Homo sapiens: one gene and its partners. The protein of the gene in region 1 purifies or fractionates together with the protein of each later gene. This does not show direct contact. Each region holds a gene or a part of one and is shown on either strand. Other genes may lie near its edges.

Evidence for each region.
Region 2: the proteins of L3MBTL2 (region 1) and YAF2 purify together in Homo sapiens (affinity purification with mass spectrometry; 6 studies listed by BioGRID and IntAct, with this or other methods). This does not show direct contact.
Region 3: the proteins of L3MBTL2 (region 1) and TFDP1 purify together in Homo sapiens (affinity purification with mass spectrometry; 5 studies listed by BioGRID and IntAct, with this or other methods). This does not show direct contact.
Region 4: the proteins of L3MBTL2 (region 1) and CIZ1 purify together in Homo sapiens (co-immunoprecipitation; 3 studies listed by BioGRID and IntAct, with this or other methods). This does not show direct contact.

The regions. Positions count from the first base shown.
Region 1 is NC_000022.11:41,208,295-41,215,326, forward strand, and holds part of L3MBTL2 (lethal(3)malignant brain tumor-like protein 2), read left to right. Parts: intron 1-827; exon of another isoform or gene 828-1,401; coding exon 1,402-1,639; exon of another isoform or gene 1,640-1,657; intron 1,658-5,335; exon of another isoform or gene 5,336-5,598; coding exon 5,599-5,732; exon of another isoform or gene 5,733-6,409; intron 6,410-7,032. UniProt on the Homo sapiens protein: Putative Polycomb group (PcG) protein. PcG proteins maintain the transcriptionally repressive state of genes, probably via a modification of chromatin, rendering it heritably changed in its expressibility.
Region 2 is NC_000012.12:42,228,247-42,235,278, reverse strand, and holds part of YAF2 (YY1-associated factor 2), read left to right. Parts: exon of another isoform or gene 1-4,057; intron 4,058-7,032. UniProt on the Homo sapiens protein: Binds to MYC and inhibits MYC-mediated transactivation. Also binds to MYCN and enhances MYCN-dependent transcriptional activation. Increases calpain 2-mediated proteolysis of YY1 in vitro.
Region 3 is NC_000013.11:113,580,209-113,587,762, forward strand, and holds the start of TFDP1 (transcription factor Dp-1), read left to right. Parts: upstream 1-4,544; 5' UTR 4,545-4,680; exon of another isoform or gene 4,681-5,469; intron 5,470-5,565; 5' UTR 5,566-5,629; coding exon 5,630-5,641; intron 5,642-7,554. UniProt on the Homo sapiens protein: Can stimulate E2F-dependent transcription.
Region 4 is NC_000009.12:128,181,573-128,188,572, reverse strand, and holds part of CIZ1 (cip1-interacting zinc finger protein), read left to right. Parts: intron 1-638; coding exon 639-710; intron 711-2,796; coding exon 2,797-3,026; intron 3,027-7,000. UniProt on the Homo sapiens protein: May regulate the subcellular localization of CIP/WAF1.

The DNA of each region.
Region 1 (7,032 bases):
AATTTTTTTTTCTTTTGTAGAGATGGGGTGTGGCTGTGTTGCCAAGGCTGGTCTCAAACTCCTGGGTTCAAGCAATCCACCTGCCTCAGCCTCCCAAAGTGCTGGGATTACAGATGTGAACCACCGTACCCAGGCTCTTCACACGTTTTCTGTTACATGCTGGGTAGATTCATATACATTATCTCATTTGCATCTCACGAGTCAAATATTTTTATTTTATAGATGAGAAAGTTGAAGCCCACAGAAGTTAAATGACTTGCCCAAGGCCCTATAGCTAGTTAGGCTCAGAGCTGAATCTAGCGCTGTAGTACACACCAAGATGCCACAGTTATCTGTGTGTCATCTGCCTCTCCCATCCTCTTTGGAGCAGTCTAGGTCCCAAATTAACTTTTCTGTGACTTAAATTGTTTCTGAGTTGAGATCATTTTGATGTATATTGAACGGGGAAGAATTTTTGTTTTTCTTTTTGAGACAGCATCTCACTCCATTACCAGGCTGGAGTGCAGTGGCGCGATCTTAGCTCGCTGCAACCTCCACCTCCCGGGTTCAAGCAATTCTCTGCCTCAGCTTCCCAAGTACCTGGGATTACAGGCACCCGCCACCACACCCAGCCAATTTTTGTATTTTTAGTAGAGACGGGGTTTCACCATCTTGGCCAGGTTGGTCTTGAACTCCTGACTTCGTGATCCACCCACCTTGGCCTCGGAAAGTGCTGGGATTACAGGTGTGGGCCACTGTGCCTGGCTAAGAATTAATTTCTAATATATCTTCTACCCCAGAAAGTCTTTGTGAAGTACCTTAGGATATTTCACTTTTTTTTTTTTTTTGAGATGGAGTCTTGCTCTGTCACGCAGACTGGAGTGCAGTGGCACGATCTTGGCCCACTACAACCTTTGCCTCCTGGGTTCAAGCAATTCTCTGCCCCAGCCTCCCAAGTAGCTGGACTACAGGTGCCCGCCACCACGCCTGGCTAATTTTTTCTTGTATTTTTTTGTAGAGACAGGGTTTCACCCTCTTGGCCAGGCTGGTCTCGAACTCCTGACCTCAGGTGATCTGCCAGCCTCGGCCTCCCAAAGTGCTAGGATTACAGGCATGAGCCACCGCACCTGGCCCACATTGTTATACAGTATTCTATTTGAACCATGTTAAAATATCATCATTTGTAAATCCACAGAGGAGCCTGGTGAATTCCTAACACATATTTTCTGTCTTGTTAAGCTGTTGAATTGCATCATGGTGGAGAAATGTGTAAATAGAAGTAATGATCTTGGTGTTTGTAAAAGGGGTATTTGAAAGGTTCCCGAAAGTGTGAGGGGGCTGATAGCAGATCTGCAGCTTCTCCCCCCGTGCACTAAAGCCAATCATAATTCTTTCTACCTGGTTTGTGTCATCCTCCATTAGGAGACCCCATCTTCAGAACCAATGGAGGAAGAGGAAGATGACGACTTGGAGCTGTTTGGTGGCTATGATAGTTTCCGGAGTTATAACAGCAGTGTGGGCAGTGAGAGCAGCTCCTATCTGGAGGAGTCAAGTGAAGCAGAAAATGAGGATCGGGAAGCAGGGGAACTGCCGACCTCCCCGCTGCATTTGCTCAGCCCTGGGACTCCTCGCTCCTTGGATGGCAGTGGTTCTGAGCCAGGTGCCTTCAGAGTGTCCCCTGAGGATGGAGAGGAGATAGAAGATTATAGAGGAAGAGGGGGGTGGATATAGGCTATATGGGCAGAGCCATCCAGATGTAAAAGGCTATTAACTCTGATTTCTAAGGGATCAGATGTGTAAGGACCTGTAAGGGAGACAGAAGCACCCCAAGTAGCCACTGTGTTAACTTCCTTTGCTGAAGTCTAATTTCTTTTTTTTTTTTTTTTTTTTTTTGAGACTTGAGTGTCGCCCTGTTGCTCAGGATGGAGTACAGTGGCATGATCTCGGCTCACTGCAACTTCCACCTCCTGAGTTCAAGTGATTCTCATGCCTCAGCCTTCCAAGTAGCTGGGACTACAGGCACCCACCACCACATCCAGCTAACTTTTGTATTTTTTTGTTTGTTTGTTTGTTTGAGACGGAGTCTCGCTCTGTTGCCTAGGCTGGAGTGCAGTGGCGCGATCTCGGCTCACTGCAAGCTCTGCCTCCCGGGTTCACACCATTCTCCTGCCTCAGCCTCCTGAGTAGCTGGGACTACAGGCGCCCGCCATGACGCCCGGCTAATTTTTTGTATTTTTAGGAGAGACAGGGTTTCACCACGTTAGCCAGGATGGTCTCGATCTCCTGACCTCGTGATCCACCCGCCTCGGCCTCCCAAAGTGCTGGGATTACAGGCGTGTGCCACCGCGCCAGCCTAACTTTTGTATTTTTAGTAGAGGCGGGGTTTCACCATGTCGGCCAGGCTGGTCTCAAACTCCTGAACTCAGGTGATCCACCCACCTCAGCTTCCCAAAGTGCTGGGATTACAGGAGTGAGCCACTGTGCCCGGCCCTAGTCTAATTTCAAATTGTGACTTCACTCATTCTTTCATATAACTAATGTGTATTCAGCACAGATTAGATGCCACTGAGTAGCATGGTGCTGCTTTTTTGTATAAGTATACCATGGATTTCCAACGTGGATGTTGAGAAGATAGGAAACCTAAAGTGTTTTGGTTACTTTCTGAGAAGGGACAAATAACTTGTGGTTTGGAAGTCAGGGTGGGAGTGGGAAGGTAATACACGATAAAGTGACCCTGGGTAGGAGGACTGGGTTGGGGGCGGGCAGATGAGAATCCCTATGGATCATCTGGAAGCCAGTTGACTTTGGAAATGTGATGCTTGGACAGCTGCTGAACCCCTGTGTCAGGGCCTCCCATGTGTGGGCTGCCTGTGAAGAGAGGCAGGCTGGATAGTCTGTGAGGACACTGCCATCCTTTAGATCCCAAACTTTTTTTGTTTTATTTTGAGGCAGGGTCTCACTCTGTCACCCTGGCTGCAGTGCAGTGGTGTGAAAATGGCTCACTGCAGCCTCGACCTCCTGGGCTCAGGCAATCCTTCCACCTCAGCCTCCTGAGTAGCTGAGACTACAGGTGCACGCCACCATGCCTGGCTAATTTTTGTATTTTTTTTTTGTAGAGACAGGGGTTTTGCCCTGTTACCCAGGCTGGTCTTGAACTCCCAAGCTCAAGTGATCCCCCACCTCAGCCTCCCAAAGTGCTAGGATTACAGGCATGAGCCACCGCACCCAGCCCCAAACTCGTTAGAAGAGTAATCTAATACTCTTTGCAGTTGAATCTTATTTCCTTTTTTTTTTTTTTTTTGAGACGGAGTCTTGCTCTGTCACCCAGGCTGGAATGCAGTGACATGATCTTGGCTCACTGCAAGTTCCGCCTCCCAGGTTCAAGCCATTCTCCTGCCTCAGCCTCCCCAGCAGCTGGGACTACAGGCGCCTGCCACCACACCCGGCTAATTTTTTTTGTATTTTAGTAGAGACGGGGTTTCACCATGTTAGCCAGGATGGTCTCGATCTCCTGACCTTGTGATCTGCCCTCCTCGGCCTCCAAAAATGCTGGGATTACAGGCGTGAGCCACCGCACCCGGCCTTTTTTTTTTTTTTTTTTTTTTTTTGAAACAGAGTCTCGCTGTGTCACCCAGGCCGGAACGCAGTGGCACGATCTTGGCTCACTGCAAGCTCCGCCTCCCGGGTTCACGCCATTCTCCTGCCTCAGCCTCCCAAGTAGCTGGGACTACAGGCGCCCTCCGCCATGCCCGGCTAATTTTTTGTATTTTTTAGTAGAGACGGGGTTTCACCGTGTTAGCCAGGATGGTCTCAATCTCCTGACTACGTGATCCGCCCGCCTCAGCCTCCCAAAGTGCTGGGATTGCAGGCGTGAGCCACCGCTCCCGGCCTTACTTCCTTTCTATTTATATTGTCTTCTTTTCATCCCTTGCCTTTTATCTTTCTCCCTTCTATCCTCTTCCAGCCCTTCTCTTAGAATCTTAGGATTTAGAACTAGAAGGAACCATTAGAGACCACTTAGACCAGGGGTTCTGCACATTAGAATCATCTAGGGGAGCTTTTAACAAACTACAGGTACCAGTATCCCGTCACAGACCAATTCATTAGAATTTTAGGTTCAGGCTTTTTTTTTTTTTTTTTTGAGACAGCGTTTCACTCTTGTTGCCCAGGCTGGAGTGCAGTGGTGCCATCTCAGCTCACTGCAACCTCCGCCTCCCAGGTTGAAGGGATTCTCCTGCCCCAGCCTCCGGAGTAGCTGGGATTATAGACGCCCACCACCGCGCCCGGCCATCTCAGGCATTTTTAAAAGCTCCCCAGGTGGGTCTAATAGTGAAGTCACGGGCCAGGCATGGTGGCTCACGCCTGTAATCCCAGCACTTTGGGAGGCCGAGGCGGGAGGATCACAAGGTCAGGAGTTCAAGACCAGCCTGCTCAACATGGCGAAACCCCGTCTCTACTAAAGATATAAAAAATTAGCCAGGCGTGGTGGCACATGCCTGTAGTCCCAGCTACTCAAGAGGCTGAGGCAGGAGAATCCCTTGAACCCGGGAGTCGAAGGTTGCAATGAGCCAAGATGGCGCCACTGCACTCCATCCTGGGCAACAAGAGCAAAACTCCATCTCAAAAAAAAAAAAAAGTGAAGTCACGATTAAAACACTGATCTAGCTGGGCGCATTGGCTCACGCCTGTAATCCCAACACTTTGGGAGGCCGACACGGCGGATCACAAGGTCAGGAGATTGAGACCATCCTGGCTAACATGGTGAAACCCCGTCTCTACTAAAAACACAAAAAAATTAGCTGGGTGTGGTGGCAGTGCCTGTAGTCCCAGCTACTCGGGAGGCTGATGCAGGAGAATGGCGTGAACCCGGGAGGCAGAGCTTGCAGTGAGCCAAGATTGCGCCAGTGTACTACTCCAGGCTGGGTGACAGAGCAAGGCTCCGTCTCAAAAATAAATAAATAAAACACTGATCTAGTTCAGTCCCTTTACTATATAGATGAGAAAATAGAGCCACAGAGGTTAAGTGACTTTGGCACTTTTTCTTCCTATAAATTTTTTCGCTTTTTTTTGAGACAGTGTCTTACTTTGTTGCCCAGGCTAGAGGTACAGTGGTGCAGTCATGGCTCACTGCAGCCTCAGCCTCCTGGGCTCAGGCAGTTTCCCCCCGCCAAATCACACCTGGCCTTTTTTTTTTTTTTTTGGGCAACAAGGTCTTGCTATGTTGCCCAGGATGGTCTCAAATTCTTGCCCTCAAGCAATCCTCCCTCCTTGGCCTCCCAAACTGCCGGGATTACAGACAGGAGCTACCATGCCTAGTTTCTTCTCACTTTCCTCTGACAAACTTTTCAACACTCACCTGTTCCCCCAGTCGTCCTCATGGATTTCCATTAGCCCCTCTGTTGACATCTGTAGCCAAGGGAGGCCAAGCAGCAGCACTTCATTCAGGTAGATTCAGGATATACACACCAGTACCTCCCATTCCTCCTCTTATTCCATTAGCCTTTGTGGGGGCAGGGGCTCACCTGGTTAATGCAGTGCCCCAGGTTTTGAAGGGCCCATCACTTTGTTTGCTTTGAGGTGGTCATATCGGGTGAGTCATGTGCTAAGTTCTCTTCCCAGCTGTCTGTGAGATGTGTGGTATCGTGGGTACAAGGGAAGCCTTCTTCTCCAAGACCAAGAGGTTCTGCAGCGTCTCCTGCTCCAGGAGCTACTCCTCCAACTCCAAGAAAGCCAGTATCTTGGCTAGGTTACAGGTGAGAGGCAATCACTTGGATCCTTCCCGGTGCCTTTGGTGCTGAGACAGGAACCACCAAGTGACTGAAGGCCAGGGCCAGGAAAGTTTGAAAAGGTCCTTGCTTGTGGCCAGCTGGTATTTATTATGTTCTCAAACTTCAGAGGACAGTAGAATCCATTTGTGGAGCTTTTTAAATTATAGGTTCCTGAAGCTACGCTCCATTACCTACCATCATCCCCCAGAGTCTGGTGTATTCAGTACATTTTAAACAAGAACTATGGGGGAGTCTGACACCCTTGGTCTTCACCCCACACTTTTATAAATCCTTTCAAAGGAAGTTGGGAAACAGGCCCAAGGTTCACCAGCCACGGTGGCTTCAGGAAGACCATGCCTCCTCGGACTCCATGTCACAGGCAGCTACCTAGAAAGTCTTGCCAATTTTCTAAATTACTGATATTTATAGAATCTTTAGAGATGGAAAGATTCTTGGATGTGGTGTTGAACCCACACATTTATTGATAAGTATACTGAGGTCCAAGGAGGTAGAATGACATACCTAGTGTGGCTCTGTAGGAGGAGAATGGCGGAATTGAGGCTGGAACCTCATCTCAGGGGCCTCATCTTACCTTGTTTCCCAGTAGCTGGGACCAGCATCTGCAACACTGCTTCCCAAATTTGCCTGCATGTTGGGATCACCTGGAAAGTTTAAAAATTATTGATGCTGGTCGGGCACGGTGGCTCACGCCTGTAATCCCAGCACTTTGGGAGACCGAGGCGGGCGGATCACGAGGTCAGGAGATCGAGACCATCCCAGCCAACATGATGAAACCCCGTCTCTACTAAAAATACAAAAATTAGCCAGGCGTGGTGTTGTACGCCTGTAGTCCCAGTTACTCGGGAGGCTGAGGCAGGAGAATCGCTTGAACTTGGGAGGTGGAGGTTGCAGTGAGCCGAGATCGTGCCACTGCACTCCAGCCTGGGGGGAAAATATTATGTAAAATATATTGATGCTTGGGTCCTACTCCGAAAGGTTCTGATTTAACTGGGATGGTGTGTAGCCTGGACAGAGATTGGAAGAGCTCCCAGGTGATCCTAATGTGCAGCGAAGTTTGAGCACCACCGATGTTTATTAGAAATTGCTGTGTCCCAGATCCTTCTGCTTACTGCTTCATACACTGTCGCCTTTGTGAGACAATTACCATTGTTTCCCCATTTTGTAGATTTTACTTAAGGCACCGAAAGATCCCTCTCTTCCGAGAGCTAAGAATAATATTGGTAATATTAATAGCTATGGTTTGGGAGTACTTGCTAAGGGCTTG
Region 2 (7,032 bases), on another chromosome or scaffold:
TTAATGAACAGGGTAATTTCCAGAGTAAGGTTGGCAAGTACTAAAGCCAAGACTGGATAGCTGCAGAGCAGAAGGATGCAGTTTGCTAATGATTTGTTTGTGTGACGCACAGATGGGATTTGAATCCTTTGGGTCAGACTGACCTTTGAACTGATTCTGCCTCATTGCCAAATGTTAGGCCAAGTCTAAGCCATTCTAGACATTTGAAAAACTTTTTTCTTTTTAGACCTGCAGAGAAGATTGAGTCCTTGTTCTACCTTTGAAGTCTTCTTTTTTTCTTTTTTCTTTTTTGAGATAAGATCTCATTCTGTTGCCCAGGCTGGGTTGCAGTGGCATCATCCAGGCTCACTGCAGCCTCGAACTCCCAGGTTCAAGGAATCCTCCCACCTCAGCCTCCCAAGTAGCTGAAACTACAGATGCACACCACCATGTGTGGCTAATTTTCTTATTTTTTGTAGAGATGGGGGATCTCTATGTTGCCTAGGCTAGTCTCAAACTCTTGAGCTCAAGTGATCCTCCTACCTTGGCCTCCCAAAGAACTGGGATTATAGGAATGAGCCACCATTCGGCCCCTTTAAAGTCTTTATTGGCAATATAATTTTTTTTCTTTAAATAATATTAAGTTCAAATTCTTTATGCAACAGAAGCCCATTTCCTTTGGCTATATCCATGGTAGGTCATGTCTTTCTAGAGAACGAAGTTACATTCATGGCATGTATTTCAAAATAAAATGATTTGTTGTAGCTTCAGTTCCTCAAGTTTTAATTTTATTTTAGATTTTGGGGTACATGTGCATGTTTGTTACTTGGGTATATTGCAGAGTGGTGGGATTGGGATTCCAGTGTACCCATTACCCAAATGGTGAACGTTATACCCAACAGGTCATTTTTCAGCCCCTCACTCCAAAATTTTTTACATTGTGCTTTTGTGAGAGAAACAGTAGTAAATGTCAAACTGACAGGAAATTTTTTAAAAGGAAACAAAATGCCACGGTGACACATTATTTTCAAGATGCTGCACAGTCTTTATATCTGAAGTTTCTTTTCTTTCTTTTCTTTTCTTTTCTTTTCTTTTCTTTTCTTTTCTCTTTTTTTTTTTGAGGCAGAATTTGAGACAGTCTTGCTCTGTCGCCCAGGCTGGAGTACAGTGGCGTGACCTCGGCTCACTGCAACCTCCACCTCCCAGGTTCAAGCAATTCTCATGCCTCAGCCTCTGTGGTAGCTGGGATTACAGGTGCCCGCCACCACACCAGGCTAATTTTTGTATTTTTAGTAGAGATGGGGTTTCACTATGCTGGCCAGGCTGGTCTCAAACTCCTGACCTCAGGTGATCCGTCTGCGTCGGCTTCCCAAAGTGCTGGGATTACAGGAGTGAGACACTGTGCCCAGCCTATCTGAAGATTCTTATAAGGCAAGAAATGTCCCAAATATAAATGCAAGAAACTTTAGGAAATTAAGGATCATTCTTGGCTGGCCCAGTGGCCCACACCTGTAAGCCCAGCACCTTGGGAGGCTGAGACAGGAGGATTTCTTGAGGCCAGGAGTTTGAGACCAACCTGGGCAACACAGTGAGATCTCGTCTCTACTAAAAATTAAAAAAATTAGCTGGGTGTGGTGGTGCATGCCTGTGGTCCCAGCTACTCAGGAGGCTGAAGTGGGAGGATCCCTTGAGCCCCAGAGTTCGAGGTTGCAGTGAGCTGTGATCATACCACTGCACTCCAGCCTGGGCAACAGAGTGAGACCTTGTCTCAAAAAAACAAAATTCTGAGTCATCAGAGAAAATGAAATATTAAATATTAAGGATAGTCTGTATGAGGGTGATAATCAATGTGTGATGATTAATTTAAGACTGGTGTCTTATTGGTACTTCATCTAGTAGTGGACAGTTACTTAATATTGCTTAATTCAGATAGCAAATATTTAGAAATGAAAATGATAGAATTATTGGTTTGGGTTTCAAACTGTGGTCTAAATGGTTCATACCAGGCTTTCAAATGTAACAGGTAATGTTACATTTTGTTAGAGGATATTATAACAGTCCTTTAGGTTTCTCATAGGTGTTATTTTAGAGAGCTATAAAAAAGATTTCACATAGTAGAAAGAGTGCTAGATGTTACACTAGTATGATTTTGGTAACCTGGGTTCATATCTCATTTCATATCAACCATTTCAATATTCAGCATTCAGCAAATGTTTATTGAGCATCTTATTTAAGGGCTGAGTTGGATACTAGACATACAGTGGTGAGCAAAATGGATTTTTTTGTTTCTTTAAAATTTTACAGTTTTGCAAATTAGAACCGCTTTAACTGTACCAAGCTCTATATGTGAGGTTTAGTGTTAGTAGATCTTTCCTTTATGTGTAGGCTGAAGAGGTGGAACTTCTTCATTAAAAATATATGTTGTTTATAACTGAACACAGTATTATTATTATGGTTAGGTAAAAAGAGTGAGTTATTTCAGCTTCTTTTAAAAGTAAGCTATAAAATCCACATTCTGAAAGAAGCTTAAACCAACTATCATCTGGTAGAAATCTTTTCAGCATCGTTGTTTTCTTGTCATACTTGCTTTATGTCTTCAAATTTGAGGTTTGGCACTGATTCTTCTAGACTTTTGGTGTAGGAATGGGAGAAAAAAATTGAGGACCATCTACATAAGTCCTTTTTAAAGAAATGCATGGTTCCTGAGCCGCCTCCTGTCTATCTGAGGAGCCTTTCTAGCAACCATTTAGTTGTTCAGAGACTCCTTATTCTAGGAGATTTCTTACTTGTTTGTTTTTTGTCCTGTAAGAGGACTCACACTGGTTAATTGTATATGGGTAAATTTTACAAGTGATTATTAGTGTTTGTGTAGTCTGGATATCAGAGTGGTTTTCAAAGTGTAGTCTGAGGGACACTGAGAGTCCCTGAGATCTTTTTAGTTGAAGCTTTCTATGAGGTTCACACTGTTTTTATAATAATTTGAAGATGTTATTTGCCTTTTTCACTGTGATGGTGCAGAGGCAGTGATGGGTAAAACTGCCAGCACCTTAGCATGAATCAAAGCAGTGGCACCAAATTGCTATCTTCATTGTAATATTCACCACCATGTACATGCATGCAGTAAGAATAATGTCAGTTTGAATTAAGAATATCCTTGAAGCAGAAAAATTTACTAATTTTATTACATCTCATATTTTTAAAAATATTCTGTCTGACCAAATGGGAACTACACATAAAGCACTTCTACTGTATACCAAAGTACAGTGGTTAAGGGAAAGCACATGTGTAGTTTGTCTTGCAAGCAGAGCTAGTCTTTTTGTCATAGAGCATCATTTTTACTTGAAAGACTACCTGAAATACCATAGTTATTCAGACTTGGATATTTAGCATATATTTTCTTGAAAATGAATATATTCAAAAAATATATCACTTCAAGGAAAACACTTGATACTATATGTTGCCAGTGATAATCATTCAAGTGAAAATTAGAATTTTTGAAAATTTGTAGCAACAATGAGCTTTAGAGTTTCTGTGTATAAAGACTTTTCTGAGAAGATTAGTGGTGGTATCAATGAATATAATTTCTGATATTTCACCATGAAATGTGTCAGCATTTGGAAGCTACGCATAACTCAGCAAACAAATGGTTCCTAGTTACCGATGTATGATTTTACAAAACTGTAATGGGTAATCCATCAAAGTACAAAATACCAACAGATTTTAAGGGAACACTGAAAACTTCATTGATGTGGTTTCAGATTTCATATTGCAACTAACCTTTGAGAAACAACTGTGTTTTTATGTAGTATCAAAGAATAACACCTATAGTTATCTGAAAATGCTATTCAACTACTTACCTCTTTTCAACTGTATATCTGTGAGAGTCCAGATTTTCTTAATATTTTTGGACCAAAACAACATATTGCAACAAATTGAATGCTGAGATAGATGTGACAATCCAGGTGTCTTCTACTAACCAGATGTTAGAGGTTTGCAAAAATATACGATGCCACTCTTCATACAAAATATCTTTGTTTTGGAAAATAATAAGTTTTTAAAATAAAAATATGTCATTTAATATGTGATGTATTTATTTTTTAAATGAACTAATATATTTAGATTTTTATCAGTTTTTATTTCTAATATAGTAAACATTGATAGATGACCCACATTAAGAAAAACAAAAAACAAAAACTCTTAAATTTTAAGAGTGTAAATGATCCTAAGACCAAAAAGTTTGTGAACTGCTGGTCTAGAGTTTATTGGCTTGGGTTTCTACATGCAATGGCTTTACTTCAGCAGGTATTCTTTTTATTTCCTTTATAGTGTGAGGCCTGATAACTAATATCCTAGTTGTTTAACTCAGTGGCCCAATCTCACTCATCTGTTGATGTCGCCTCCAAAGTATTTGATGTTCTTGGCCCTTTTTAAATTGAAACTCTACTTCCTTCATGTCTCTAAGACTCCTTTTTCATAGATTTCTGTGTATATCTCTGAAACCCATTTCTGCCTCCCCAAACTTGGCATCTGTATATTCTTTACTTTGTATGTGGCATAAACTCCTTTCTGGAACCTCAGCTAGAAACTGTCATTGTCTCAGCTTTGATTCTAATTTGTAGTCCTCCTTCATGTCCTTTCTCTGGATTGTCTCTTAAATCTATCCTTTTTCCTTTTATGTAGTTACAGTTCAGAAGCCCATATCACTTCTGTCATGAACTATTGGACAAATTGGTCTCTCCTTTGGAATGCTACTAACATGATCTTCATTATCTTTTTTGAAACCTATGTGATTATGTTGGTCCCTGTATATTTAAAAAAAAAATTGAGTCCTATTAGTGGCTGCTGAATAAAGGCTGAGATCCTTAGGATAGTGTTCAAGGCCATAATAATAATCTATCCCTAAACTACCTTCCTAGCTTCATTTCCTGCTGCTTATCCCAATCCTGTGCTGTGTCAGCACTGAATTATTTTTATCATATGGTACTTTTTCTTTCTCTTTCTTTCTTTCTTCTCTTTCTTCTCTTTCTTCTCTTTCTTTTCTTTCTTGAAGGAGTCTTGCTCTGTCGCCAGGCTGGAGTGCAGTAGCGCGATCTTGGCTCACTGCAATCTCCGCCTCCCAGATTTGAGCGATTCTCCTGCCTCAGCCTCCTGAGTAGCTGGGATTACAGACGTGTGCCACCATACCTAGCTAATTTTTTTATTTTTAGTAGAGACAGGGTTTCACCATGTTGGCCAGGATGGTCTCCATCTCCTGACCTCGTGATCCGCCTGCCTCAGCCTCCCAAAATGCTGTGATTGCAGGCGTAAGCCACCATATGGTACTTTTCAAAGAAGCCCTCTAGGATTACCATCCCTCCACCCCTTGGTATCATATTGATTCTATGTATGTAGAGTCAGTCATGCACTCCATAATGACATTTTTGGTGAGTGGGGGACCACATATACAGTCCCATAAAATGATACTATATTTTTACTCTACTTTTTCTATGTTTAGATACAAATACTTACCATGGTGTTACAATTACCTGCAACATTCAGTATAGTAACATCCTGTACACCTGTAGCTTCAGAGCAATAGGCTCTACCATATAGCCTAGGTATGTAGTAGGCTGTACCATCTAGGTTTGTATAAATACATTCTATGATGTTCTGACAATGAAATCACCTAACGATGCATTTTTCAGAACATATCCGTCATTAAATGATGCATGGCTGTATGTATATGTAATTATTCCTGGAGAATAAATATATTGTAGTATAATTGTCTAGACACTTATCTGCCCTACAGGGCAGAGACCGTCTTATTCACTTTGGTATTCCCAGAAGCTAATAAAATACCTGAAGTATTGTAGATATTTAAATGTTTTTTTTTTTTTTTAATTTATTTTTTTATTGATAATTCTTGGGTGTTTCTCACAGAGGGGGATTTGGCAGGGTCATGGGACAATAGTGGAGGGAAGGTCAGCAGATAAACAAGTGAACAAAGGTCTCTGGTTTTCCTAGGCAGAGGACCCTGCGGCCTTCCGCAGTGTTTGTGTCCCTGATTACTTGAGATTAGGGATTGGTGATGACTCTTAACGAGCATGCTGCCTTCAAGCATCTGTTTAACAAAGCACATCTTGCACCGCCCTTAATCCATTTAACCCTGAGTGGACACAGCACATGTTTCAGAGAGCACAGGGTTGGGGGTAAGGTCACAGATCAACAGGATCCCAAGGCAGAGGAATTTTTCTTAGTGCAGAACAAAATGAAAAGTCTCCCATGTCTACTTCTTTCTACACAGACACGGCAACCATCCGATTTCTCAATCTTTTCCCCACCTTTCCCGCCTTTCTATTCCACAAAGCCGCCATTGTCATCATGGCCCGTTCTCAATGAGCTGTTGGGCACACCTCCCAGACGGGGTGGTGGCCGGGCAGAGGGGCTCCTCACTTCCCAGTAGGGGTGGCCGGGCAGAGGCGCCCCTCACCTCCCGGACGGGGCGGCTGGCCGGGCGGGGGGCTGACCCCCCAACCTCCCTCCCGGACGGGGCGGCTGGCCGGGCAGAGGGGCTCCTCACTTCCCAGTAGGGGCGGCCGGGCAGAGGCGCCCCTCACCTCCCGGACGGGGCGGCTGGCCGGGCAGGGGGGCTGACCCCCCCCCCACCTCCCTCCCGGACGGGGCGGCTGGCCGGGCGGGGGGCTGACACCCCCACCTCCCTCCCTGACGGGGCGGCTGGCCGGGCAGAGGGGCTCCTCACTTCCCAGTAGGGGCGGCCGGGCAGAGGCACCCCTCACCTCCCGGACGGGGCGGCTGGCCAGGCGGGGGGGCTGACCCCCCCCCCCCACCTCCCTCCCGGACGGGGCGGCTGGCCAGGCGGGGGGCTGACCCCCCCACCTCCCTCCCGGACGGGGCGGCTGGCCGGGCAGAGAGGCTCCTCACTTCCCAGTAGGGGCGGCCGGGCAGAGGCGCCCCTCACCTCCCGGATGGGGTGGCTGGCCGGGCAGGGGGGCTGACCCCCCCCCACCTCCCTCCCGGACGGGGCGGCTGGCGCGGGCGGGGGGCCGACACCCC
Region 3 (7,554 bases), on another chromosome or scaffold:
TAATGGGACAAACTGCTAAGAGCATTTTCCAAAACTGATCTGTTTCTGTTTGTGCACACACACACACACACACTCAGACACACCTGTGTACTCAGCTGGTCATAGTCTCTCTCAATTGTCACCTTCTCCATGAAGTGTTGCCAACTGTGTGCACGGAGAAATCATTGTTCTGTGCTTCCATACCCCCCTTCCCAATCGTGAATATGAGCTTGTCCCACCAGGTCACATCCATTATAATTGCAGGTGCATCTGTCTCTCCAGTTTGACTCTGGGCAGTCTCTTATTAATCTGCGTAATATCAGCACCCAGAGTTGTGTCTGGCACTTAGTAGGAGCTCAGAAATGCTTGCGGAGGGAGGAATGCAGGGAAGGCAAGGGTTTCGAAACTGTGGTTTCGTCTTCTTATTAACAAACTATATTTTTATCCACGTATTTCTCAGTTAAAGGAACGTGCCCATCACAGAGGCTAAGATCACTTATCCACAGTGATGTGGTGCCCCATCATCTCAGCATTGGTGTCAGTGGATGCTAAGATCCTTCTGTGAATCCGTAAGAGGAGTGGGCAGGCAGCACAAAAATGCCCAAAGGCACTCAATTGCATGTGAGGCCACATTTCTCAAACAAAATTACTCTGTAGGCTCCTGGTGCTGGCTTCACCTTGGGCTGAGGACAAATGGGTGCTATGGGGAAAGGAGATGACGCCAGGAGAACACAGATCTTTCAACCTGAAATCATGGGACTCCACAGGACATCACCTGACATCATCTTAGCCAGAGCGAAGCAAGCCGCAGGGCAGGCACACTTCAGGAGAATCTCGGAGTCAATGGCCAAGGTACCAAGGGGTCTCTCATCACAAAAGCCAGAAAAGAATCCAGATCAAAGCAAGGGAACATGTCTAAGGAGTAGGCAAAATTGGTTGATTCGGGTAAATTCAACTTTTATAAATCTGGTGATATGATCCTCTAGAATTTGTCAGATCCAAGGGGTGATTTTGAAAGAACTGTGGTTTCAGACTATAAATGAATGCGACAGTCTTTAAGACAGAAATAATATTATAGCATGCTAATGTGGCAGGATCACAACTGACTTTCCTTCCAAGAGGGAGAACTTGGGATTTGACCGGGAATTTTAAAAAGGAGCAATAACGCAGTAGGAGAGAGACAAAAAATGTCTTTGTGTCTGGGGGTGGTGGGGGGACTTAGGAGTGTTGATCTGTGAGAGCAAAGGAGAGCCACACGGGACAGACCTGGAGGTTGGGAAAGCGCACAGATTTTCCTGTGTTTTATGATACACTCAAATACACAGAGCAAAGTTTTCTAGAGATGCCTTTATTGACATTTTACTAAAGATCAAGAAAATGCCATTTACGCATATCCAGGAATATTATTTTTTAACTTTCCCCATAAATTCCATGAGTCCCTGCCTCCTGCTTGTCCTCCCACTGAAGGCCTCTTGCCATAGTGATGGAAGAAGGCAGAAAATAGGAGATGGTTGGAGAAAAGACCAATGTCATCGAGGAGGGAAACAAAAGACAATCTGGATATGTAATCAGCAGATTTAGAATTAAAACAGGGTTAGAAAATTCTCTCTCTCTGAAAGAGAGGACAGTTTAATGGGGGTGTGGAATTGGTGGGGAGAGTTTGCACCATGCCTGGAGACTCTGGAGCAGACACACACACAGCTTTTGCGAGATGAAGACTTTTCCTGGGAAGGACACGTTCACTTCTAGTAAAACACAGCACAGGCCATTTCCATGTAATATTTGGGACGGTAGCTGAATCTGGTGCCCACATGCACAAAACAAGACAGTATCTGGCCCCAACCATAGGGCTGAACCCAGCCTCTGGCATGTGGTGCAAGTCAACACCTGAACGAGTGCATCATTCAAAGAACCCTATCTCCTAAACAGCCCAGGCTCCAGAGATACAGGGAGGCCAAAGGCTTAGATAAATTCCGAGGGTTATGGGCTTATTTAGGAAGTTTGCATTTCAGCAACCCAATCGAGAGACTGCAAGGCAAGGCAGTGGCTAAAAATATTTGGATCATCAACCAAAATTTTAGAGGGAATTCTGTTAACTTTTGTTAAGAGAAACGAGGGCTTTCTGTGGAACATGTGGCTATGGAGAGGAAAAAGGGAGTAACTTTTTGCCCTTTTCCTAAGCCACACAGAGCACCGTGAGCATTCATTGCCGCAGTGCCTCGTGCGCGTTCGGAGTATCTCAGTACAGTGATTTTTGTGCAGAAACTTCTTTGAATAATATTAGTTATCAGCCATATAAACATTGTTGAATTATCAGAATCCTGAATTTGTGGGGAAGACGTTTAAGACCCCAATTTTGGACCCTACGTGTGTATCCTCCTAACTGGAGCCCCCAGGTCTCAGGGAGAAGTCCCCAGAGGCTGGGAGGGTGTCACTGTTGCCATCAGGGCTCAAATACTGACATTTAGGAACACATAAAGAATCCCTGTGAAACAGAAGGAACGGACCTAGGAAGATAGGGCCATTTGAGGAACATCAGTGTTCTCTAAGTATCTATTTGTGTGAACCAGCTCGCAGAAAGTGAGCGTTTCTGGTAGTCTTCAAAGAAGAAACGGGTGCTAACTTGTAAGCAGTTTAAGCCAAGTGACCAGAGCTTTAGGGGGTGCGGCGTTGCCTGAGGGGCAGGAGTGGCCAAAATCAGCATAAAACGTGCAAAGTGGGCTGTCATGTAATAATACACCGCACAGGCAGAGAGGCCTTTGGTCAGCTCCTCAAGTCCTCTGTAGATGTTCCTTACCCTCGGCGCGCACCAGCCTCTGCCGCCTGCTGTGGCCCTGAACTTCGGACTCTTCTCTGGCCTAGCCCGCCCTTGGCTGGGGTGCTCGGGCCTGGCCCTAGCGGCGGGGCCCTCCAGGGTGGATTAAGTCTCCAAGACTCCGGGACCACCAGGCTCACCATGCAATGAAACTGTTTCTGGAGTTTTCCTGTCCCTGCTTTCCCTCCCGAGTCCCGGGCCAGGCTGCGTCCGGTGGGCACCGAGGACGCCCAGAATTGTTGGGAATCTGGGCGGAGGCCCGTCGTGGGCTTGGAGGCCACCGGGTCCAGCAGAGGCAGAGGCCTCTGTGCCACGCACGCACACACACCTGCTCTCCTCCGTGTGTCCACATACACACGTCTATGCACACACCTGCTCTCCATACATGCACAGCCCCACACACAGTCGGCCCTTTATGTGCACACACACTCGTGCACACAAGCGGCCCCCTCTCCTCCGTGCATACAGGCGCACACACAGCTGGCTCTCCTCTTTGAGCACACACACTCAAGCACACACCCGGCCCCGCTCTTCCAAGTGCACACACACTCCTGCACACACTAGTCCCTGCTCCCCCCCCCACACTCGCGCACACAGCCGGCACTCTCTGCTCCCTGCACACAAACACACATCCTGACATACCCGGCCCCCTACCTGCTGCCCCATGTGCACACACACTAGTGCACACACCAGTCCCCGCTCCCTCACATGCACACACACTAGTGCACACACCAGTCCCCGCTCCCTCACATGCACACACACTAGTGCACACACCAGTCCCCGCTCCCTCACATGCACACACACGAGTGCACACACCAGTCCCCGCTCCCTCACATGCACACACTAGTGCACACACCAGTCCCCGCTCCCTCACATGCACACACTAGTGCACACACCAGTCCCCGCTCCCTCACATGCACACACTAGTGCACACACCAGTCCCCGCTCCCTCACATGCACACACACGAGTGCACACACCAGTCCCCGCTCCCTCACATGCACACACACGAGTGCACACACCAGTCCCCGCTCCCTCACATGCACACACACGAGTGCACACACCAGTCCCCGCTCCCTCACATGCACACACACGAGTGCACACACCAGTCCCCGCTCCCTCACATGCACACACACGAGTGCACACACCAGTCCCCGCTCCCTCACATGCACACACACTAGTGCACACACCAGTCCCCGCTCCCTCACGTGCACATGCACTAGTGCACACACTAGTCCCTGCTCCCCCACGTGCACACACACTCTTGCACACAGCCGGCCCCGCTCCCCCACGTGCACACACCAGCTCCCGCTCCCCCACATGCACACACACTCGTGCACATAGCCGGCCCCGCTCCCCCATGTGCACACACACTCTTGCACACAGCCGGCCACCTCTCTCTCCGGACACACACAGTCAGAGGCGCGCACAAACACAGTCCCTTGGCCGCCGAGCGCACGCCGCGCGCGCGCACTGCCCGTCCCGGCGCAGGCCCCAGCTACATCTCCGCACGCGCACGCGCACACACGGACACGCGCGCACAGCCCCTCCCCGCTCTCCCAGGGCGCGCAGCACTGGCGGGAGGAGCGGGAGACCGAGGAGCAGCAGAAGAGGAGGAGGAGGGCGCCGAAGGCGCGAAAAGGCGCGCAGGCGCGCTGCGCGGAGCGGGCCCGCCGCCGCCCACGTCACCGCGCCGCGCGCACGTCACGCCGGCCCGACGCTCGGCCAGGGTGAGCCCCGCGTCCCGGCGCCACTCGGCCCAGGGCAGGGACCCCGCCACGGCCGGGACCGCCCGGCCCGGCCCCAGCCCGCGCCTCTCCGCGCCGCCCCGCGCTCCGCACCGCGCCCTCTCCGCGTCCCCGCCCGCGCGGCCGGACCGGGCAGCCAGGTGCGGGTGGGCAGGGGATGCCGCGGGAGCCGCGGGCGGGAGCCGGGGGTGCGGGCGGGACCCCCGGCCACCCCATCCCTTGCCCCGGCCGCGTGTAGGCGCCGCGCGGCCCCGACCCGCGCCCTCCCGCGCCCTGCGCGCTCCTGTGCCTCGGGGACCCCGCGCGCTCGGCGCTGGTAGGGGCTCCCCAGGTGACCGCGGGGCGGGGGTCCCGGGCCCGGCCCTCCCGGCCGACAGCAGCGTCCGCGCCCCACGCTGGAGGTGGGGCCGGGGCCGGGGCCGGGGCTGGGGCCAGGGTCGGCCGGAGCGCGCAGGGCGGGGGAGGGGAGGCCGCCCCACGGCGGCCCGCGGGGACCCGGTTCCGGCGCGCGCGGGAGGCGCCTCGTGCGGAGGCGGCCCGAGGCCTAGTGACAGGCGCGCGGCGCGGACCCCGGAAGCCCACCTGTCAGAGTTACCGGTCAGCCGGGCGGGCGCCGCCGGGGTCTGGGGTGGACGCCGCGAGCCTGCACGTTGCGCCGGGACCCCGGGGCTGTGCCCAGGTGGGTGGTGGGGCACCCCCCTGCAGCGGCGGGAGGGAGGCGCTGCGCCCTGGCTCCTGGGGCTCGGCCCCACCCTCGGCCGCTGGGCGGGCCGTCGGGGACCTGGGGGTAGTGGTGGTGACCCTGCGGGCCCGCGGGCCACTTTTCCGCAGGGGGCATTTCCGTCTGGCGAGGCGACTGAAAATCCTGAGTGTGGGAGTCGGTTTGGCCAGCTCCGCTCTCAGGATGGAGGGTGCCTTTGGGAAGGAAGGTCCGCGTTTCCTTTGAGATGTGTTATTTTTTAAACTTCGTTTTTCATTCTTACTTATTTCTTGTTTTTCCTTACTTTTTTTTTTTTTTTTACCAGAAAAATCATTTTTCTTCTCTGGGAAGGTGAACATTTGTAGCATTGATTTCCCGGATCTGGTAACATGGCAAAAGATGTAAGTATGTTTGCTTCATGCTGCACACGAATGTTTGCCTCGCACTAAATTCTTTGTAGTTCTCTGCCTTTATTTCAGAATGACAACACATAAGCTACAGTAGTGTTTATTTTCAGACTTTTAAAGCGTCTGAAGCGGGATGAAGGTGAAAGATGGAAGGATCTGATCTCTGAAGCTGCGGTCACCACCCACAAGTTGTGGCCTTGGATACCACACTGCAGTTGGGTGGTGATGGGGTGGTGCCTTCTGACTTTTTCCTTATCTTTACCGACTGTGTTAATTGATAATTTTAAATAAACGCCTTAATTAAATTGAGGTGGAGGGTGTTGCAGCACCGCAGCGAATCCTGCATTTCTTGGGGGGCTTCCACATGAGACGCTGGACGGGGGCCAGGCTCAGGGCTCAGGCTGTAGCCACCTGCTGGCACCTGTCTTCCTACAGAGGAAGTTAATTCCACTTGGGTGGACCAAGAGCTAAGGACTTGTTTTGGCCACTTTTTTTCTCAGAAGGATGAGATTTCCTGATTTATGAAATCTGGTAAAAAATGCTACTTAGCCTGCTTTGCAGTTGTCATGAAACTATAGAATATTTTGAAAATTTTTTAAAGCCAGAAATTTAGTCTATTTTATTGGTGTGCGGTTCTTTACCGTGCTTGGTTATGTCAGTCACTGAAACACCAGCTGGATTCTTTAGTGTTTCCCACCGTGCATCGTTTTGTAACTGAGTGAAAGGTGCTGTTGATGTGTTTACCTACTTACCGCACAGAGTTGGAAAGAGTCCGCACATGCTGCCTCTGCCTGAGATACATCTGTAGCGAAAATGCGTCCAGAGTGTGGAGCCCTCTCCGTTGGCGCAGAGGTTTCAGTGGTCCCTGCGAGGCCTTTTGGGGTGTCTGCCCTCCCTGACCTGCGACCAGGCATGTCACACGGCATCCCTGCCTTCAAGCACTGGGGTCCCCTTTAGAGAGGGTGTGTGAGCACCCAGGTGGACCCAGTGTGAGTTTTTGAAGTCATATCTGGCTGTGCTGCGAGACTACTTTTATCCTCTCCACTGTGCTTGTCCGTACCATGCCCTGACCTCGTGCGGGCATGCACTCAGAATGCCAGATGTGGGCATGTGCTCAGCGCGCAAGCCATGTTCATTACATCTCCTCATGGTGAGGAGCTGGACCCAGGGCCTCGGTTAGAGCACGCTTCTGGTGTTGTGTGGTTTCCTGTGTGGTTTCCTCAGATGGTTCTCAAACACGCTTTGATACATAATGGATGGTGTTTTCGGGGCCCTCTTTCATTCCCCCGTGATTTCACTGGCACTGTCTGTGAGCAGCATGTAGTGTGAGGCTGGGGGTGGGGGGCGTGTGGAAAGGTGGTCCGGCTCTGCAGGACCCTGAATGCTCCATCCAGTGTGGGCACCTGAGACGCAGCATTTGTCAGGAACTGCATAGGCACAGGGGCTGGGGGCTCACCTTGCACTCAGGGGTTGTGATCTGAGTTGGGGGTTGGCGCTGGGAGGAGAGTAGGATTCTGCAGCTGGTGAGGCCTTCCCTGCTCAAAGCCTGGGAGTGGTCAGGAGTGCTGGGTCTGGATGGAAAGTGAGGTTGTGAACAAGTCAAGGAATTTGATGTTTTCGCTAGCTCTTTTTTTTTTTTTTTTTTTTGAGACAGAGTCTCACTCTGTCTCCCAAGCTGGAGTGCAGTGACGCGATCTTGGCTCACTGCAACCTCTGTCTCCTGGGTTTAAGCAATCCTCTCGCCTCAGCCTCCCGAGAAGCTAGGATTACAGGCATGTGCCACCATGCCTGGCAAATTTTTTTGTATTTTTAGTAGAGATGGGGTTTCACCATGTTGCCCAGGCTGGGCTCGAGCTCCTGACCTCAACAATCCACCCGCCTTACAGGCGTGAGCCACCGCGCCCGGC
Region 4 (7,000 bases), on another chromosome or scaffold:
GGGAGGCCAAGACAGGAGATTTGCTTGAGGCCAGGAGTTCAAGATCAGCCTGGGCAACTTAGCAAGACCCTTTCTCAAAAACAAACAAAAGAATAAAAGTCACACTCTTTAAAGTGGAAAAAAAGGTTAAAAATGGGGATAGGAAAACCCACAGTGTCATCTGTTGACTCACTCACCACCTGAAGAAAACCACCAGTCAGCATTTTTGTCTCTTTCATCCCATTTTTTTTCTAGGCACAGACTTGGGGATTTGTATCTGATGATTGTGATTGATATAAGTCCCAGGCTGTACCCTGTTTCTTTGTCACTGAATAGAATGGCATGATCGTTTACCATAGGATTTGATCATCTGTGTTAAGATTATTTTTAATAGCTGTTTAATATTGCACCAGAGGGCTATGCCTTTGTTTATCTAAACCTTCTTAGCTGTTTGGCTCTTTCCTTTTTTTTTTTTTGCTTTTTTCTTTCTTTTGCTTTTTTTAATTTTTTGTTTTGTTTTGTTTTGGGTTTTTTTTTTTTTTTTGCTGTTTTAAGTAACCCTGGGATGAATATGTTGTTTGAGATTGTTTTCTCACTGAGTCAGGGGGGATGGATGTTTTATGGCTCTTGATAAGTATTGCCGAATTGCTTTCCTAAAGGACTGGACCAGTTTGCAATGCCACCAGCCACGTATGACACTGCCGGTCTCACCATGCCCACAGCAACACTGGGTATTATATGCTTTTTATATATATATATAAATGTATATATACATATAATTAAGTTGGTTGGCAAAAAGAAGCTATGTCATGAATGTTTTACATTTCTTAGAGTGCTAGTGCAATTGAACATTTTATATTTGTCTGTTGAACATTTTATTTCTTTTTGTGACTTGTCCATGTCCTTTGTTCATTTTTCTTTTAGGTTGTTTCATCTTTTGTCTTATTGTTTTTAAGAGCTGGTTGGCTCTCTGCACATATGTGTATATGTATTTGTTTCAAGTTAATGTTAATTGAACATTTACTATGTACCAGGCACATTTGTATATCTCATTGAATACTCATGAAACATTGTGAGGCAAGTGCTATTATTATCCCCTTTTTACAGATCAGGAAATCAGGCTAAGCAGGGGGAAGTGATTTGTTCAAGGTCACAGAGCTTGCACTGTAGAGTCTGGATTTGAACCCAGCGCTCACAGCACGCCATGCTTTAACCTTTAACCCCTGTGCTTCCCATCCCAGCACTGGGGCAAGAGTTCCAACTGCCTTTCATCCCTTAAATACTTCCCAAGCTCTGGGCTTCCCCTGAGGTGCAGAGCTGAGTTAGATGATGTGAAGCAGAAAGCAGATAAGGAGCTGGATGTGGTGGCTCACGCCTGTAATCCCAGCACTTTGGTAGGCCAAGGTGGGCGGATCACCCTGAGGTCAGGAGTTTGAGACCAGCCTGGCCAACATGGTGAAACCCTGTCTCTACTAAAAATACAAAAATTAGCCAGGTGTGGTGGCGGGCGTCTGTAGTCCCAGCTAGTCGGGAGGCTGAGGCAGGAGAATCACTTGAACCCAGGAGGCAGAGGTTGCAGTGAGCCAAGATCGCACCACTGCACTCCAGACTGGGCAACAGAGCAAGACTCCCTCTCAAAAAAAAAAAAAAAAAAGCAGACAAGGAAAGTATGAAGTATGTAGCTCGTCCTAGAATAATTGGAAGCTGGGGCCTTTGGGGACACAGTCTGCAAAGGTCTCTTGGAGGAGAGATACCTATAGGGAGGTCTGAAGGGTGTCAGTGGGTAGAACAGCCCAGGCAGAGGGAACAGCATATTCAAAGGCCCTGAGGCAGGATGTCTGAAGGACGGCACAGGGACATGTGACTGGAATATAGTGGGGACATGTGGGGAGAATGGCAAGAAAGGAGGCTGGAAAGGTGGGAAGGGCCAGACCATGCAGTGAGGAATGGCCTTTGCTACCCAACAGCAGGGAGCTATGGAAGTGTTTGGGCAGAAGGGAGAGATGAACTCAGAATATGGTTTGCGAAAGATCGCTGTTTGCTGCCATCTTGTGCAAAAGCTGTGGCTGGAATTCAGGCAAAGGATCAAGTGGTTTTGGGAGGAGGCAGGGAGTGGGAGTGGGGATGGAGCGGGAAAGTCAGATTGGGAAGAGGCATAGGAGACAGAGTTGATAGTATGTGGGGATGGCTTGCATGGAATAGGGCAAAGAGAGGGAGGAATGAGGAATACCCCAGAATCCTGGCTGGGGCGGTAGGTGGATGGCAGTGTCCCTCGTAGCGACCCTGGGCAAGCTGCACCTCCACTCTGTCTCCGTTTTGTCATCGGTAGAGATAACACCCACCCTGAAACCTGCTGGGCCGAGGGACTGAGGCAGTGTGAGGAATGGGCTTAGCACAGTGCCTGACTCATAGTTGCTGCTGATAAAGGGTAGCTGGTAGGGGTGGGGGTGGGTGTCTTGTTATCCCAGGGACCAGCCCTCCTGCTGGTTCTCCCTATGGGCTGTGCTAAGTCTCTCACCTACTCTATGGCAGACTCTAAAGCATGCCTGAGGGTGAGCAGAGTTTTGGGGAATGCTAAAGGCAACACCCCCACCCCTAGCTGGGGCAGAAAAGAGCCCTAAAGCTTCCTTCACCATCAGTGCCCAAGATGGGGCTGAGCCTCAGCTCTCATCTCTTCCCTTTGGCTGCCCTTGGGTGGGAAGGTCCCTTTCAATTATCTGGGATGTTCCCATGATGCTCTGGGGCACTGATGCCTGACCCTACCTTCTGCCACCCGACCACATTGTGACCCCTCTTCTCCTGTCTTCTTGCCTGCAGGTAACCTCCGAGGCTATGGCATGGCATCCCCAGGCCTCGCAGCCCCCAGCCTCACACCCCCACAACTGGCCACTCCAAATTTGCAACAGTTCTTTCCCCAGGCCACTCGCCAGTCCTTGCTGGGACCTCCTCCTGTTGGGGTCCCCATGAACCCTTCCCAGTTCAACCTTTCAGGACGGAACCCCCAGAAACAGGCCCGGACCTCCTCCTCTACCACCCCCAATCGAAAGGTGAGTGGTAGGTGGGGATGGGAGTGGGCGGGAGGGGACCCTGGGTGTCAGCCCCAGTGCCACCTGCTCTGGCTCAGTCTGGGCCTTCGGACAGGTCACACTCCCTTTATGCCTCAGTTTCCTCATCTGTAAAATGAGGGGGGCGGGAATGGACTTGTTTAGCGTTTCCCAAACTTCAAATATTCTTTTATCAACGAAGGGATTTTTGCCATGCCCAAACACTACCAGTACTATCATTTACTTAATGTTTCTTTTTTGTTTGTTTTTTGAGATGAAGTTTCGCTCTTATTGCCCAGGCTGAAGTACAATGGCGCGATCTCAGCTCACTGCAACCTCCGTCTCCCAGGTTCAAGCGATTCTCCTGCCTCAGCCTCCAGAGTAGCTGGGATTACAGGCATGCGCCACCACGCCCAGCTAATTTTGTATTTTTAGTAAAGACGGGGTTTCTCCATGTTGGTCAGGCTGGTCTCAAACTCCTGACCTCAGGTGATCCGCCCGCCTCAGCCTCCCAAAGTGCTGGGATTACAGGCGTGAGCCACTGCGCCCAGCTTAATATTTCTTTTTAAATTATTGGTGTGGCCAAGCGTGGGGGCTCACACCTGTAATCCCAGTACTTTAGGAGGCCATGGTGGGTGGATCACCTGAGGTCAGAGGTTCGAAACCAGCCTGGCCAATATGGCAAAACCCCCTTCTCTACTAAAAATACAAAAAAGTAGCCGGGCATGGTGGTGCATGCCTGTAATCCTGGCTACTCAGGAGGCTGAGGCAGGAGAATCGCTTGAACCCAGGAGGCAGAGCTTGCAGTGAGCCAAGATTGCGCCATTGCACTCCAGCCTGGGGAACAAGAGCAAAACTCTGTCTCAAAAAATAAATAAATAAAAATAAAATTATCAGGGCATGATAGTGCATGCCTGTAATCCCAGGGACTTGGGAGGCTGAGGTGGGAGGATTGCTTGAGGCCAGGAGTTAGAGGCTGCAGTGAATTATGATCACACTACTGCACTCCAGCCTGGGTGACAAAGTGAGACCCTGTCTCAAAAAAAAAAAAAAAAAAAAATCAGCACTGCCCAGTAGAAATAAAATACAAGCCATATATGTAATTTAAAATTTTCTGGTAACCACATTATAAAGTAAAAAGAAATGGGCTAAATTAATATTACTAACTTATTTAACCCAATCCCATATGAAACTATTATCATTTCGACCTGTCATCAATATAAAAAATGAGGCATTTTACATTCCTTTTTTAAAAACTACAAAATCTTCACAATCTGGTGTGTATCTGATACTGACCTCTCAATTCAGCCCCGCCAGTTTCAGGTGCTCTCCTGAGGCTGTGGGGTGACTGTGTGGGAGAGCATGGCTTTGAATGAGTGAGCTTCCTTTCTGTTACATTTATTTGGAAAGGAAACATCATATCATAACCTGACATTCTAAAAACTATCTAAGTTAATTGCCATTCATAGAAGTATAAGAAATTGCTGGGTGCAGTGGCTCACGCCTGTAATCCCAACACTTTGGGAGGCTGAGGAGGGCAGATCATTTGAGGTCAGGAGTCCAAGACCAGCCTGGCCAACATGGTGAAACCCCGTCTCTACTAAAAATACAAAAATTAGCTGGGCCCTAGTGGCGGGTGCCTGTAATTCCAGCTACTCAGGAAGGCTGAAGTAGGAGAATCACTTGAACCTGGAAGACAGAGGCTGCAGTGAGCCAAGATCGTGCCATTGCACTCCAGCCTGGGCGACAGAGTGAGACTCCATTTCAAACAAACAAACAAACAAACAAACAAACAAACAAAAGTATAGGAAACATAACTAGGGTAGAACAATGCTATAAAATCCTAAGCTATACGCTGTTGCCGGCTATAGGTTCCAGCCCACAGCCCCCTGGCTCCTTGTGTGTTTGAGAGGTGTTTACCTTTCTCCTGGCATAAGCAGGAGATCTGCAAAGGGCTCACCCCCTCCCTAGACTGTCCTGTCCCTGAAGGTCTCCGCAGCTCCTGCTCACACCCTGCTTCTGGGTGTATTCCAGCGCAGGGGCAATGCCCCCTTTGCTGGCCACTCCAGGGCGGGCCACTTCTGGAGGTAAGGCATTTTCCTTCAGCGAGGGGCCCCGCCTCCAGCCTTCCAACGGGCCTGTCATCACAGATCTGGTCTAGTGTCTAACCCGCCCTGCCCTCATTTTTTTACGTATGGAAAAACCCAGGCTTAGAGATTGGGGTGCGGTTGGTCCTGCGCCCCACAGCTGTCTAGGTGGACCCAGAGCCCAGGCCTCCTGACTCTCAGGCTGGTGCCTGTTTCGTGCAGGGTGACAGCTAGGTAGTTTCTGAAGGGCAGAGTATGGATGTGTCCAGATTACCATTCCCTGCTCAGTGCTCATTCCTTGGGCTTAGCAGGAGGGAGGGAGGGAGGCTGCAGGCTTCTGGTGGCCTCCTGGGGTGCCTTGGACTGGCCAGAGAGAGCTGTGTGTTCATTTAGCAGACATCTGGAAGCCCCTGCAGGGGACTCCCTGGTGCAGATGATACATCTGGCCTGGCCCTCCCTGAGGTCTTGGACAGGAATGGGGAGGGTGGTGAGAGATATTAATGCAAATAATGCTCCAACCAATTAATTAAGACTGTGGAGGCCGGGTGCAATGACTCATGCCTGTAATCCCAGCACTATGGAAGGCCAAGGCAGGAGGATCAGTTGAGCCCAGGAGTTCGAGACTAGCCTAGGAAACACAGTGAGACCCTGGCTCTATGGAAGAAAAAAAAAAAGAATACAGAAATGCCACGAAAAGGAAGTAGGTTCTGGACCCATTCTGGAGTCTGGAGGGCTTCCTGCAAGAAGTGCTTCTGAGGCTCTAAGTGAAGGCCTAGGGGCAGGGACGGGCCTGGGGCTTGACCAGAGAGAAGGCCAAGGTAGATAAGCAGAGAGGGCTGGTTGCGGGGGCATGGCCGGGGCAGGTAGTGTGCAGAGGCCCGTTTGTGCAGGGAAGGGGTGGGTGTGCAGAGTGTTTTCAGGCTTGGCGTAAGGCGTGCACCAGGGCTGCAGGAAGCCATGGGAGGGCTTTAAGCCTGGAAGAAGAGACATGATCAGCTTTGCATTTTAGAAGGACCCCACTGGGCCAGGTGTGGTGGCTCACGCCTGTAATCCCAGCACTTTGGGAGGCCGAGGCGGGCAGATCATCTGAGGTCAGGAGTTTGAGACCTGTAGGGACCAGCCCCACAGGGTCGGTGCGTCTCTCCCTGTGTGCGGCGACGAGAGAGTGTAGAAATAAAGACACAAGACAGAGATAAGAGAAAAGGCAGCTGGGCCCGGGGGACCACTACCACCAATGCGCAGAGACTGGTAGTGGCCCCGAATGTCGGGCTGCGCTGTTATTTATTGGATACAAGGCAGAAGGGGCAGGGTAAAGAATGTGAGTCACCTCCAATGATAGGTAAGGTCACGTGGGTCACGTGTCCACTGGACAGGGGGCCCTTCCCTGCCTGGCAGCCGAGGCAGAGAGGGAGAGGAGACAAAGAGAAAGACAGCTTACGCCATTATTTCTGCATATCAGGGACTATTAGTATTTTCACTAATTGACTACTACTATCTGGAAGGCAGAGCCAGGTGTACAGGATGGAACATGAAGGCAGACTAGGAGCGTGACCACTGAAGCACAGCATCACAGGGAGACGGTTAGGCCTCCTGATAACTGCGGGCAAGCCTGACTGATGTCAGGCCCTCCACAAGAGGTGGAGGAGCAGAGTCTTCTCTAAACTCCCTCGGGGAAAGGGAGACCCCCCCCCCCCCCCCGCCTTTCCTGGTCTGCTAAGTAGCGGGTGTTGTTCCTTGACGCCTTTTGCTACTGCTGGACCATGATCCGCCTGGTAACGGGCGTCTTCCCAGACGCTGGCGTCACCGCTAGACCAAGGAGCCCTCTGGTGGCCCTGCCCAGGCATAACAGAAGGCTCACGCTCTTGTCTTCTGGTCACTTCTCACTATGTC